Homo sapiens: one gene and its partner. The protein of the gene in region 1 purifies or fractionates together with the protein of each later gene. This does not show direct contact. Each region holds a gene or a part of one and is shown on either strand. Other genes may lie near its edges.

Evidence for each region. The genes of interacting proteins can lie anywhere in the genome.
Region 2: the proteins of RETN (region 1) and GLI4 purify together in Homo sapiens (affinity purification with mass spectrometry; 2 studies listed by BioGRID and IntAct, with this or other methods). This does not show direct contact.

Annotation. Positions count from the first base shown.
Region 1 is NC_000019.10:7,665,199-7,670,965, reverse strand, and holds RETN (resistin isoform a precursor), read right to left. Parts: upstream 1,918-5,767; 5' UTR 1,845-1,917; intron 1,694-1,844; exon of another isoform or gene 1,650-1,693; 5' UTR 1,640-1,649; coding exon 1,522-1,639; intron 1,146-1,521; coding exon 1,068-1,145; intron 790-1,067; coding exon of another isoform or gene 748-789; coding exon 617-747; 3' UTR 511-616; downstream 1-510. UniProt on the Homo sapiens protein: Hormone that seems to suppress insulin ability to stimulate glucose uptake into adipose cells. Potentially links obesity to diabetes. Promotes chemotaxis in myeloid cells.
Region 2 is NC_000008.11:143,270,413-143,277,436, forward strand, and holds the end of GLI4 (zinc finger protein GLI4), read left to right. Parts: intron 1-4,291; coding exon 4,292-4,390; intron 4,391-5,484; coding exon 5,485-6,392; 3' UTR 6,393-6,519; downstream 6,520-7,024.

The DNA.
Region 1 (5,767 bases):
TAACCCAACTTTGCCTGTGCCTTGGGGATTCCTCCTTGCAGGTAGGAAGTGAGGGGTACAGGTTCCAGCTCTGGGCTGAGACATGATTCAGGGTTCCACCCTGACCTGGGGCTCCTGGAGTCTTGGGGCCCTGGAGGGTCCCGTCCACTGCCCAGACTGACCCAGGTCCTCGATGAAGCCTCATTATGAGGACTGGGGGAAAAGGACCCAGCCACTTCCTGGGGAGGTCGGAGACCCCAGGGTGAGCGTCAAGGTAGCCTCAAAGATGAGACGTCACCTCTTGAAGGCAGCCATGAGCCTTGGGTGGGGACGTCACTAGAGGAAGTTCAGGCCCTATTTTCGGAGGAAGCAGTTGGAGACCCCATAGGAGGAAGGGCGATGGGGCAGTAGAAAGTCGCGGTGTCCCCGCCCCCTCCAGCAGCTACGCGCCCCACTCTCTTGGAGACGCTAGATCAGTCCCTCCGGGCCTACTAAAGAAACCACGCAGGGCTCAGATCCGCTCCATCATCATCATCATCATCATCATCATCATCTCCAGGTTTATTTCCAGCTCCCCCGCAACCCCTCCGGACCTGGAGCCGCCTCCGCCCGCGCTGTGCACGCGCTGCGCGCGACCTCAGGGCTGCACACGACAGCAGCGCGCTCCGGTCCAGTCCATGCCCGCGCACTGGCAGTGACATGTGGTCTCGGCGCGCACATCCCACGAGCCACAGGCGGAGCCACAAGTGCAGCCGGTGACGGCGAAGCCTGCAGCCCGGAACACAGGAGCGTGGACTCTGAGCTGGGAGGCTGAGGGTGGGAGCGGGAGGGGGGTGGGGAGCGCGGAGGGGGGTTGGGGGGGCGGGGGTGGGGACGGGGACGGCTGGAGGCTCCAACCACTGAATGGGCACTGGAGGCAGGGAGTGAGGGTGGACACCAGTGTCCAGATGGTGGGCGGAGAAGGCTGGGAGTCAGGACCAAGATCCTAGGGGAGTAGAGGCTGGACACGGGGAACGTGGCGGGGAGGGGGCATTCCCAGGGGACTTGGAACAGAAATGGGCGCCTGGACAACAGTCTCCTGCACTCACCTCGGGGGCAAGTAGCCAGGTCCCCCCTGGAGGTGACGCTCTGGCACTCCAGGCCAATGCTGCTTATTGCCCTAAATACTGGGGGGCAGGAGGAAAGGAGACAGGGGGAGCTGTGAGACCAAACGGTCCCTCCCCCATCCTCCCCTAGCCCTGTTGGTTTGGAGCTAGGTCCCTGTGGGCATAGGAGCTCACTGGCCTCCAGGACCCTGTCTTGAGTTGGGTGTTTTGGAGTAAGGGAAGGTTTGGAGTGAGAGCGGGGATTGGGTTTGGAGCCGTGGATAAGGTGGGGACAGTCGGAGGGGTTGGGAGTGGAGTTGGGGTTGAATTTATGATCTGGTTGGATTTGAGGATGAGATTTGGTGAGCGCTGGGGCTGGGTTGGAGTCAGGTCTGTGCCAGGGATCAGTGAGGTCTCTGAGACCCTTGGGGAGCTTGCCCAAGTGGGGGGTCCTCACTTAGGGAGCCGGCGACCTCCTGGATCCTCTCATTGATGGCTTCTTCCATGGAGCACAGGGTCTTGCTAGACACCAACAGCCCCAGGACAGGGAGGAGGAGGAGACAGAGAGCTTTCATCCTGCAGGCGCTGAAAGAGGGAACCAAGAGACCCACAGCTGGATCAGCCCTGCCCTGTGGGGAAGATCCGGCCCATGGAGGGAGTAGGATCTGCCCCTGGACCTGGACCCCTGTCCCCCCATGTGGGGGACAGGGATGGAGGCTCAGCCTTGACCCCAGCCTCCCCGCTGGTGCCATGGCAAGCGCAGGAGCAGCTGTCACTTACCCTCTCGGTGGGCTCAGCTAACCAAATCCGGCACACGAATTCCTGCACCGCAGCTCTTTCTTTGAGGCCTCTTGGGGTGGGGCTTCCTGGCTTGGCTAATAAGTCCCTGGGCCCCCAACCCTCCGGTCCCACATCCGGGGCCAAGAGGAAGCCCCTGAGCAGACAGTAAGGGCTGGAGGAGGAAGGGAGCCTTCCCACTTCCAACAGGGCCTCCGTCTTCATGTCCAGAGACTGGTCAGGAGGTGGTGCCCCAGGGATAATGCCAGGGGCTGTGGTCTGAGGAACAGGTAGACAAGCAGAGTTTTGCATGCAAGGGTGGCTGATGCAAACATGACAAAATTAATGCCTCTTGCTAGGCATGGTGCGGACAAGCACTTGTAGTCCCAGCTACTAAGGAGGCTGACGTGAGAGAATTGCTTGAGCCCGGGAGTTCGAAGCTACAGTGACTTATGATCACAGCACTGCACTCCAGTCTGGGCAACAGAGCAAGACCACTTCTCTAAAATAGTAATAATAATTATGTCTCTGGGTGAGAATGACATACCACATTCATACCCAAATGCCCATGAGCAATAGAACTGGTAAATAAAATCATGGTTTATGGCCGGTGGCTCACGCCTGTAATCCCAGCACTTTGGGAGGCCAAGGCGGGCGGATCACTTGAGGTCAGGAGCTTGAGACCAACCTGGCCAACATGATGAAACCCTGTCTCCATTAGACATACAAAAATTAACTGGGCGTGGTGGCGTGTGCCTGTAATCCCAGCTACTTGGGAGGCTGAGGTGGGAGAATCACTTGAACCCGGGATGTGGAGGTTGCAGTGCACTGAGATCGTGCCCCTGCACTCCATCCTGGATGACTAGCTTGGGCACCATAGCAAGACTCCATCTCAAAAAGAAGAAAGAAAAATCATGGTTTATTCCATCAATGGCATCACCTGCAACAGAAGTTGGAAAGCCATTGCTCATGGGCCAAGGTCCAGCTCATGTTTCTTCTTGGACCACCCATGAGCTTGGAATGGTTATTACATTTTTATTTGTTCTTTGTTTCCAGTACAACGGGCCTTTTTGTGGTAAAATACATATAACATACAACTTACCATTATAACTTACTTTTTTCTTTTTTGAGACGGAATCTTGCTCTGTCGCCCAGGCTGGAGTGCAGTGGCGCGATCTCGGCTCACTACAAGCTCCGCCTCCTGGGTTCACGCCATTCTCCTGCTTCAGCCTCCCAAGTAGCTGGGACTACAGGCGCCTGCCACCACGCCCAGCTAATTTTTTGTATTTTTTTTTTTTTAGTAGAGATGGAGTTTCACCGTGTTAGCCAGGATGGTCTCGATCCCCTGACCTTGTGATCTGCCCGCCTTGGCCTCCCAAAGTGCTGGGATTACAGGCGTGAACCACCGTGCCCGGCCTTTTTTTTTTTTTTTTTGAGACGGGGTCTTGCTATGTTGCCCAAGCTAGTGTCAGACTCCTGGCTTCAAGTAATCCTCCCACCTTGGACTCCCCAGTAGCTGAAGCTACAGGTATGCACCATCTTGTTCCATTTTAACCATTGCTTTTGTTTGTTTCTTTGTTTCAGAGTCTCACTCAGTTGCTCAGGCTGGAGTACAGTGGCTCAATCTTGGCTCACTGCAACCTCCACCTCCTGGGTTCAAGCAATTCTCCTGCCTCAGCCTCCCGAGTAGCTGGGATTACAGGCGTGCACCACCATGCCCGGCTAATTTTTTGTATTTTTAGTAGAGATGGGGTTTCACCATGTTGGCCAGGCTGGTCTCAAATTCCTGACCTCAAGTGATCCACCCGCCTCAGCCTCCCAAAGTGCCGGGATTACAGGTGTGAGCCACCATGCCCAGCCTATTTTAACCATTTTTCAGAGCACAATTCTGTGGCAATAAGCACATTCATGTTGTTATGTAGCCACCACTGCCGTCCATCTCCAGAACTTTCTCCTCTTTCCAAACTGAAACTCTGTCCCCATGAAACACTCACTCCCTATCCCTCTCCCCAGCCCCTGGCACCCTCCATCTTGCTTTCTGCCTCTATGGATCTGATGACTCTAGGGACCTCCTAGGAGTGGAATCACACAGTGTTTGTCCTTTTGTATCTGCTTATTTCACTGAGCATAATATCCCCAAGGTTCATCCCTGCTGTAGCCTGAGTCAGAACTGTTTTCCTTTCCATGGCTGTATCACATTCCCTTGTGTGGATGAACCACGTTGTGTTTATTCCTTCATCCATCGATGGACACTTGGGTTGCTTCCAGCTTTTGTTTTGTTTTTTTGTTTGTTTGTTTGTTTTTGTTAGTTCACGTCTTTTGTGGGTTTTCTTTCTTTTTTGAGATGGAGTCTCACTCTGTTGCCCTGGCTGGAGTGCAGTGGCACGATCTCGGCTCACTGCAAGCTCCGCCTCCCGGGTTCACTCCATTCTCCTGCCTCAGCCTCCCGAGTAGCTGGGACTATAGGCGCCCGCCACCATGCCCAGCTAATTTTTTTGTATTTTTAGTAGAGACGGGGTTTCACCATGTTAGCCAGGATGGTCTCGATCTCCTGACCTTGTGATCCGCCCGTCTCGGCCTCCCAAAGTGCTGGGATTACAGGTGTAAGCCACTGCGCCTGGCCGTCTTTTGTTAATTCATACAGTTATTTGTCTTCTGGTTTGTTGAAGCAGTAAGTCAGACAACATTTGCCACAATAATGTCTGTCAAAGTGGCTTGCCATAAACACTGCAGCACCACATTCATCAGAAGGGCAACCTCGACGAAGGTGACTAATTTTGCCATTCTCATCCACCTTATAATATTTCAGGACAGCCAGCTTCACCTTCTTTCTCTTGTGCTTATTCGTCTTGCAGGTAAGACTTCTTCTTCTGGCCGGGCTCAGTGGCTCAGGCCTGTAATCCCAGCACTTTGGGAGGCCGAGGCAGGTGGATCACGAGGTCAGGAGTTCAAGACCAGCCTGGCCAACATGGTGAAATCCTGTCTCTACTAAAAATACAAAAATTAGCTGGGCGTGGTGGCACGTGCCTGTAATCCCAGCTACTCGGGAGGCTGAGGCAGGAGAATTGCTTGAACTGGGACCCGGGAGGCAGAGGTTGCAGTGAGCCGAGATTGCACCACTGCACTCCAGCCTGAGCTACAGAGCGAGACTCCATCTCAAAAAAAATAAAAAAAAGACTTCTTCCTTTCCTTAGCACCACCACGAATTCTCAATACAAGATGAAGAGGAGACTCCTTTTGAATGTTGTAGTCAGACAGAGTACGCCCATCTTCCAGTGCTTGTCTTTGCTGATCAGGAGGAATTCTTTCTTTACCCTGGATCTTGGCCTTTACATTTTCTACCATATCTGAGGGTTCAGCCTCGAGGGTGGTGGTCTTCCCTGTAAGGGTTTTCAGGAAAATCTACATTTTGGTGGCGGCTCCACCACAGATGGCGGATCTAAAAGGTTTTTGTTTTTTGTTTTTTTGAGACAGAGTTTCGCTCTTGTCACCCAGGCTGGAGTGCAAGTGGCACGATCTTGGCTCACTGCAACCTCTGACTCCTGGGTTTAAGTGATTATCCTGCCTCGGCCTCCGAGTAGCCAGGATTACAGGCATGTGCCACCACCACACCTGGCTAATTTTTTTTTCTTTTGTATTTTTAGTAGAGATGGGGTTTTGCCATGTTGGCCAGGCTGGTCTCAAACTCCTGATCTGGAGTGATCCGCCTGCCTCGGCCTCCCAAAGTCCTGGGATTACAGGTGTGAGCCACTGTGCCTGGCCTGCTTCTGCCTTTTGGCTATTGTGAATAATGCTGCTCTGAACATAGATGTGCAAATATCTGTTTGCAGCTCCTGCTTTCAATTCTTCTGGGCGTATGTCCAGGAGTAGTGCTGCCTGATCATATGGTAATTCTATGTTTAACTTTTTGAGGCACTGCCAATTTT
Region 2 (7,024 bases), on another chromosome or scaffold:
TCCACTCCCCTGCAGCCCTGCCGTCTCCGCTGCGGTGTCCCGAGCAACTCCCCAGGGACTGCGAGGAGGCTGGGAAGGGGCGCCCGTGGGCTGCCTGGGCTGCCTGTCCTGGTGGACCTGGCCAGGGGCTACCTGGAAGGATCCCAAGCCCCTGCAGCACACACTGTGGCTGGGCCTCCAGCCCATGCCCCTGAGGGCCGTGCTCCTCACCCCTTAGTCAGAATCTCAGGGCCCACCCTTGCCCTCTCATGTCATCTGTACAATGGCTGAGAGGAGTTCTCCTGTCCCGTTACCAGTGGGGACACAGAAGCCCAGAGACAAGGCCAGGAGGTCAGCAGACTCAGGGCATGCCCTGGCACCCCCCCAGGCCTGATGAGGTGTGACTTCTCTAGGGGGACAGTTTCTGAGGGAGGGCACAGCCCAGCAGATCATCTTGGCACAGCACAGGACACACACTGAGGTGGCTGCAGGCCAGTTTCTGCAGGATAAGAAACTGACGCCCAGGTGGAGGGTGGGCTGGGGAGCATGGAGGGGCCTGGGGCCAGGCCCCCTGAGCCTGCAGGGTTGCGCTACCCCCAGCCCTGTCTCCACCAGCTGTGGGCAGCCAGGCCCAGAAAGCCAGGCATGAGTCCCCAGCCCCACAGGCCTGGAAGCCTCCTGGGCACTGGAGCCATGTCCGAGTGCCCTGAAACCCCCAGGGGTTTTGCCCCGTGGGAGGGAGTGGGGGCTGCACCAGCAGCTTCTGCCGTCTCCTTGCTGTGCTAGAAACAACATCCAGGGAGGACAGATGAGCTGGGCCCTGAGAACAGCAAGTGTGGCTGCTTTCCCCCAGCAAGAGACTGTGGCAGGAGGAGATTGTGGCTGAGGCACAGCGGGGCCTGGGAAGGCTGTCAGGTAGCCAGAGCCAGATAAGGGGGCGGCCTTCATCCCCTCTTCATGCTGATAGGCCTGGTGTAGAGAGAACGGGGCCAGGCCGCAGCAATGGGCAGCTACTGTCCCAACTTCCAGGCACTGGGTGAAGGCAGGGGCTGTTTCTGGGCGTTTCCAGCTTCCTCTGCTCCTTGGGAATGCCCAGGGGCCACAGATTCCTAAGCAGGGGAGACCTCGCTGTTTCTGGAACTTGCCCAGGGCCATCCTGCCAATTAGGGATCAAGACAGGACTTGGAGCCGCAGCCTCCCAACTCCCAGAAAGAAGTTTGCAGTGGGCCAGACCGAGGTTCCTGGGGCCCACCCCAGGCACATGTGGTCACCTCAGGAGCCTCTGGTGGGTGCGTTGCTGGGCACCAGGCCGTGACGTATCAGGGAGCAGAGGAGGTCCCAAGTAGGAGCCGTTTATCAGTGGGGAGGGTCGTGAGGGGCATGAGGAGCGGCCGGGTAAGGTTCTCTGCGGTGGTCCCTGCAGCCATGAAGCTGGGGTCCCACAGCAAAGGACTTGGGGCCATGGCCTAGCCCAAGCCTTGCAGAGCGGGGAGACCAGGCGGTGGGAACAGGCCACAGTTCCTCATCTCCCAGGACCTCTGTGGTCCCCACGGAGATGCAGATCAGGAGCTGGGCTGGGCTTGGGGGACTGAGGGTCCCCACACAGCTTCTCAGGGATTGTGTTGTGCCCCAAGGCCACGCCCACCAGAGCCAGCACTGCCTGGGCCGGTTCTGGAAGGTTTACCCAGGGGTCCTGCGAGTGGAGGGGCAGTCTGGGCAGGAAGAAGTGAGGGAGGGGAGGCCTGGGACCCTTGGGGGCTTGCAGCCCTGTGGGGGTTACTGAGTGCCCAGGCTGTTAGGGAGGACCCCATGGGCAGGGCAGGGCCACCCCGCGACAGGCACAGCATCTTTCCACATGGAGCGCCTGGCCTTGGCACCTGAGATCTGGACTCTAGGTTCCCACAGACCACCCCCCAGCGCCTAGCTTGCTCCCCTAACTCACCCTGGTCCAGGCCCGGGCACACAGCACTTGCTGTGCCATTTAATACACAAAGGCCCTTCCAGCCAGGAAAGCACCCACCTGCCGCCTGTCCCCAGACGTGTACAGCCACCTCACCTCCACTTGGAAGACCAGCCCCAGCAGGTGGGCAGCCCTGGTGTTTCTCCAGTTCGGGCCACACTGTCCCTGTGTCACAGCACAGTGGGAGGGCACTGGCCAGGTGAGGGGTGGTGAAACTGAGGCAGGGGTACTTCTGCATAGAGCCAGCAGGGTGGGGAGCAGGGTCTGGGTGTGCACCCTGTGGAGACCTGGCACAGCCTGGGCACAGCCAGCAGGTGGCAGGTGACTGAGCTCTGCAGAAATGGCCCGAATGTGGGCAGGTGTCAGGATCCAGGGTTAGGCAGTGGAATGACAGTGACCCATGCAGCCCACACCTGACCCTAGGCCACCCCCATCCTCCCCTAGAGAAGGTCCTAGGAAGTGCTTTGCTGCCTGCACAGGGCAGTTCCCAGGGAGCTGGGGGCCATCCTGAGTCGGCTTGTTCCGCAGCAGGGTAGAGACGGTGCACACCACCTGGCGTTGCTTGACTCTGAGGGTGTCTCCGGGCACCCCTACAGCTGGCAGCGGCTTTGGCGTGCTTCCTATCTTGGTAATGTCACTGGCCCTCTTAAAGTGACAGCCCGGGGAACATCCTGCCTGTCAGTGCCAGGGCATGGCCCCAGGAACAAAGCTGGAATCGGGGTCACTTTCTTTCTCAAAGGGCTGCCAGGTCCTCTCCAGTGGTGTCCCAGCGCAGGGCAAAGGTGGCAAGGCTGTCTCAGGTGATGTCCTCACCGCCCCCTCTGTAGGAGCATGGCGCTGGAGCCTGCCCTGTATTTGGCCATCTGTGGAACAAGCCAGCTCCCCTGGCTGCCAGGGGATGGTGACATGGTGCCCCCAGGCCTGTCTCCACAATGGGGAGGGTATCCGAAAGACCCAAAGATGGTTTGGGACCCCCACATCCTGCTTTGGGGCAGCCAAGCAGTTCTGGACCCTCGGCTCTCGAGGAAGGGACGTCGCACAGCCGCCCCCACCTGCTGAACTTCCCAGCCCTTCATATCGGGCCTCCCCTCACTCCTCAGCCTGGGTTCGGAAGGTCTCCCAGGGGCCGACCTGAGGGCGGGAGGGCGTGTCGGGTGAGTGAGTGGCTGGCTGGACTGGGGAGGTCCCCCCTCCATGGTGGGCCAAGCTGGTCACCCCACCGCAGCTGGGGCAGGCCTGCCTGAGGCTGGAAAGCCCCATGAAAAGCTCACAGCCAGGCACTGTTATGAACGGGGTGTCACAGCCAGGCACTGTGTTATGAACAGGGTGTGGACAGGAGCCTCTGCCCACCCCAGCCCTGCGTCTTTCTGTGCCCATCTCTGCATTGTCATTGCTGGGGACACCCAGATTCGGCCTCACGGGGCTAAGAGACACACCCGTCCTTGAGTACAGCCCCCAGCCACCCTCTCTGCTGTGGGCAGAGGGCAGGTGAGGCACCAGGGTGGCACAGCACTGAGGGGGCAGGTGAGGCACCAAGGTGGCACAGCACTGAGGAGACAGGTGAGACCCCCAAAGGGGCCTGGTGCCCCTGCTGGCGTGAGGAGAGCTGACCACTGGCCTCGGGCAGTGGAGCCCACGCCCCTCCCTTTTCAGTCTGTGCTCCTTGAGCATTAAGGCCATCCCCCCACCCTGCCCCCACCAAGTCTTGGGTGGGAGGGGGGTCTTGGTCCTGGGTGCCCAAGCCTGGTGTGCCCAGGGGTGAGGGGCTCATAGATGGGCCCAGCCCATTCCTCAGGCTCTGCCTGAGGAAGCCAGGGGCCAGTGCGCTGGGCCTGCTGGAAGCAGCTGCCTCTGCTGTTTCTGGGCGCTCGTCAAGGACAGCAGAGAGCCCCGGAGGGACAGAAAGGTCTGGGGCCAAGGCAGGAAGGCTTTGTGAGGTACGGGTGTGGGAGCCTGCAGGGCCAGCACTTTGAGAGGCCGGTCCAGAGCAGCACTGCAGGATGCTGGGGCATGGAGGAGGGTGGGCCACAGCCCACCAAGGTGACAAAGCCGCCTTCAACGGCAGGAGGGCCGCTTCAAAGCTCCCCCAGGTTTTGGCTCTGCTTACTGGGCTGAAGGGGAATGAGCTCCCAATGCTGGCCCCTGGAGGAGGAGGCTCTTGAACCGAGCTGGGAAGGAAGGTAAAGGGCATTCGTGGCTAGAGAAGCCCAAGCAGCGGGCCTGCTGTTGGGATTGGGAGGGCCAGGAGGTGTCCTGTGTCAGGGCCACAGCCCGGGAGCACGTGGCGGTCAGAGAGGAGCGGAGGCAGTGGTCCAGAGGGTGGAGGTGAGCCCCAGCCTCCCTGACCCCCAGGCTCCCCTGGCTCCAGCCCTAAGGTGCTCTCCCAGCCGTCCGACCTGGATCTCCAAGACGTAGAGGAAGTGGAGATCGGCAGAGACACCTTCTGGCCCGGTGAGTGAGCAGAATCGGGTTACTGGGGGACCAGAGCTCTGCGCGTGCCAGGCTCCTCACAATGCCCACCTCTGTGGCACCCCCAATGCTGGCACCACCCCCTTCCTGGGGCCCCTTTTCTTCCCTGGCATCAGCTCACCTCTGCCCCGTGGCCCCTCCCCCACTCTAATGCCAGTCCAGTTACTGATGCTTCCCGAGGCGGTGACTGCAGCCCACAGCCACCTGCGCCAGTGGCCCCACGTGGACTCCTGCCGGCCCCAGCTGGACACAGTGAATCAGGAACTCCTCCCTCCCCTCCACCTGCCTTGGGCTGGGGCTTCTGGCTCAGGGCACCACTGTCCCCCCAGATCCACGAGTTATCCTGTGTCCCCTCCTCCTCCTGCATCCCCTAGATGGCCTCCCCTCAGCCTGGTTGGAGCTGTGTCCAGGTCCCCTGCACCTCCCCCTTGAGAAGCTCCCAGGGTTCCCTCTGGGCGATGTTAGTGATATGGCTGGATTTAACAGTGCTGAGCCCTCGCCCACATCTGGGCGGCCCTGGGGTGGGGAGCAGGTGTCTGAGGTCAGGTCCCTGGAAAGAGACCCTGGGCCAGAGATTTGCGTGGGAAGCTCCTGGGGTGGGCATGGGAGCTGGGCGGCAGCACACTTGCCACCGAGGCCTGGGGCAGCCCCATGAGGAGCTGTGCCCATATGGACCACATCCTCGGCAAGGGCTTTGAGGCGCCCTCTGGAGCTCTGGCGTCCCCCAGGCTCCGGGTCCTCACCAACACTTAGTGCTTCCTCCTGGCTAAGGGTGACCCCATGGTCTGTCTTGCCACTGTGGCTCCGTGCACCGGCACGGCCGCCGTGGTGACTGTGGATGGTCCCAGCAGCTCTGGGTCACCCTGCAACGCCCCCCACCCCTGTGTCTATGTCAGCTCTCCTGGGCACGGCACTCCGAGCCCCTGTCCGCTTGTCTCCCATCCACTGGGTGCCTGGCCCCTCCTTGTCCCCTCTAAGCCCCCCCGTCCAGCTCTGCTCTCACTCCCCGTCCCCGTCCCTCCGTGCCACGGTGGGGGCATGCGGGTACTATCCGCCTCTGCCGTTTCTCATTTCAGACTCCGAGCCCAAGCCGGAGCAGGCTCCACGCTCTCCTGGCTCTCAGGCCCCTGACGAGGGGGCGGGCGGGGCGCTGCGCAGCCTCCTGAGGAGCCTTCCCCGCAGGGCCCGGTGCAGCGCCGGCTTCGGGCCTGAATCCAGCGCGGAGCGGCCGGCGGGCCAGCCGCCTGGGGCCGTCCCTTGCGCCCAGCCGCGGGGCGCCTGGCGCGTGACGCTCGTGCAGCAAGCAGCGGCCGGGCCCGAGGGTGCGCCCGAGCGGGCTGCCGAGCTGGGAGTCAACTTCGGTCGGAGCCGGCAGGGCAGCGCGCGGGGGGCCAAGCCGCACAGGTGCGAGGCCTGCGGCAAGAGTTTCAAGTATAACTCGCTGCTCCTGAAGCACCAGCGCATCCACACGGGCGAGAAGCCCTACGCCTGCCACGAGTGCGGCAAGCGCTTCCGCGGCTGGTCGGGCTTCATCCAGCACCACCGCATCCACACGGGCGAGAAGCCCTACGAGTGCGGCCAGTGCGGCCGCGCCTTCAGCCACAGCTCGCACTTCACGCAGCACCTGCGCATCCACAACGGCGAGAAGCCCTACAAGTGCGGCGAGTGCGGCCAGGCCTTCAGCCAGAGCTCCAACCTGGTGCGCCACCAGCGGCTGCACACGGGTGAGAAGCCCTACGCCTGCAGCCAGTGCGGCAAGGCCTTCATCTGGAGCTCCGTGCTCATCGAGCACCAGCGCATCCACACTGGCGAGAAGCCCTACGAGTGCTCCGACTGCGGCAAAGCCTTCCGCGGCCGCTCGCACTTCTTCCGGCACCTGCGGACCCACACGGGCGAGAAGCCCTTCGCGTGTGGCGCCTGCGGCAAGGCCTTCGGCCAGAGCTCCCAGCTCATCCAGCACCAGCGGGTGCACTACCGCGAGTAGCCGGGCGGGGGCTCGGGGCTCGGCCTCCTACCTGCCCCCAACCCACCCTCCACCCCGTCCCCCACGGTGGGCACTGCCCAGCACCGCATGCCACGTGTCCGGAATAAATTCTTTTTGATTGTTGGAAGTGGGAGCCGGCACCTGCCTGGGTGAGACCTTGGGGCAGCTTCCTGTCCCCGAGGACCCGCTGCGGGATGGGGGTGATGGGGCTGCTCCACCAAGACCTGCCATACAGGGCCACGGGGTCCCTGGGGTCTGGCGGGCGGCCCGAGTGTCGTAGGGGAGGATCTGAGGCCTGGAGGTGTCCTGACTTGCCCAAAGCTGATACCCCACCATCAACACGGGAGGCGGGGGGGGCGCGCCCAGAGCAGGGGTCGAGGACGGGGCCAGTCTAGAAGTGCTCACAGGCCTGGCCAGGCTGCCTGTCTGCCACCTGGGTGAGGGGTCTCTGGCAACTCGGTTCCCTTATGTATTTGGGAGGCCTCTGCTTCTGTAAATGCAGCAGGCTTCCCCACGTGCCCTGTCAGCTCTGCTGCCTCCATTCAGTGGGGGGCCTGCTGGGCAGCAGTGGCCCGGGCTTCCTCTGCACCAGCCCCTTGCCCTGGGGTGTGGGGGCCCAGGGTGTTCAGGTC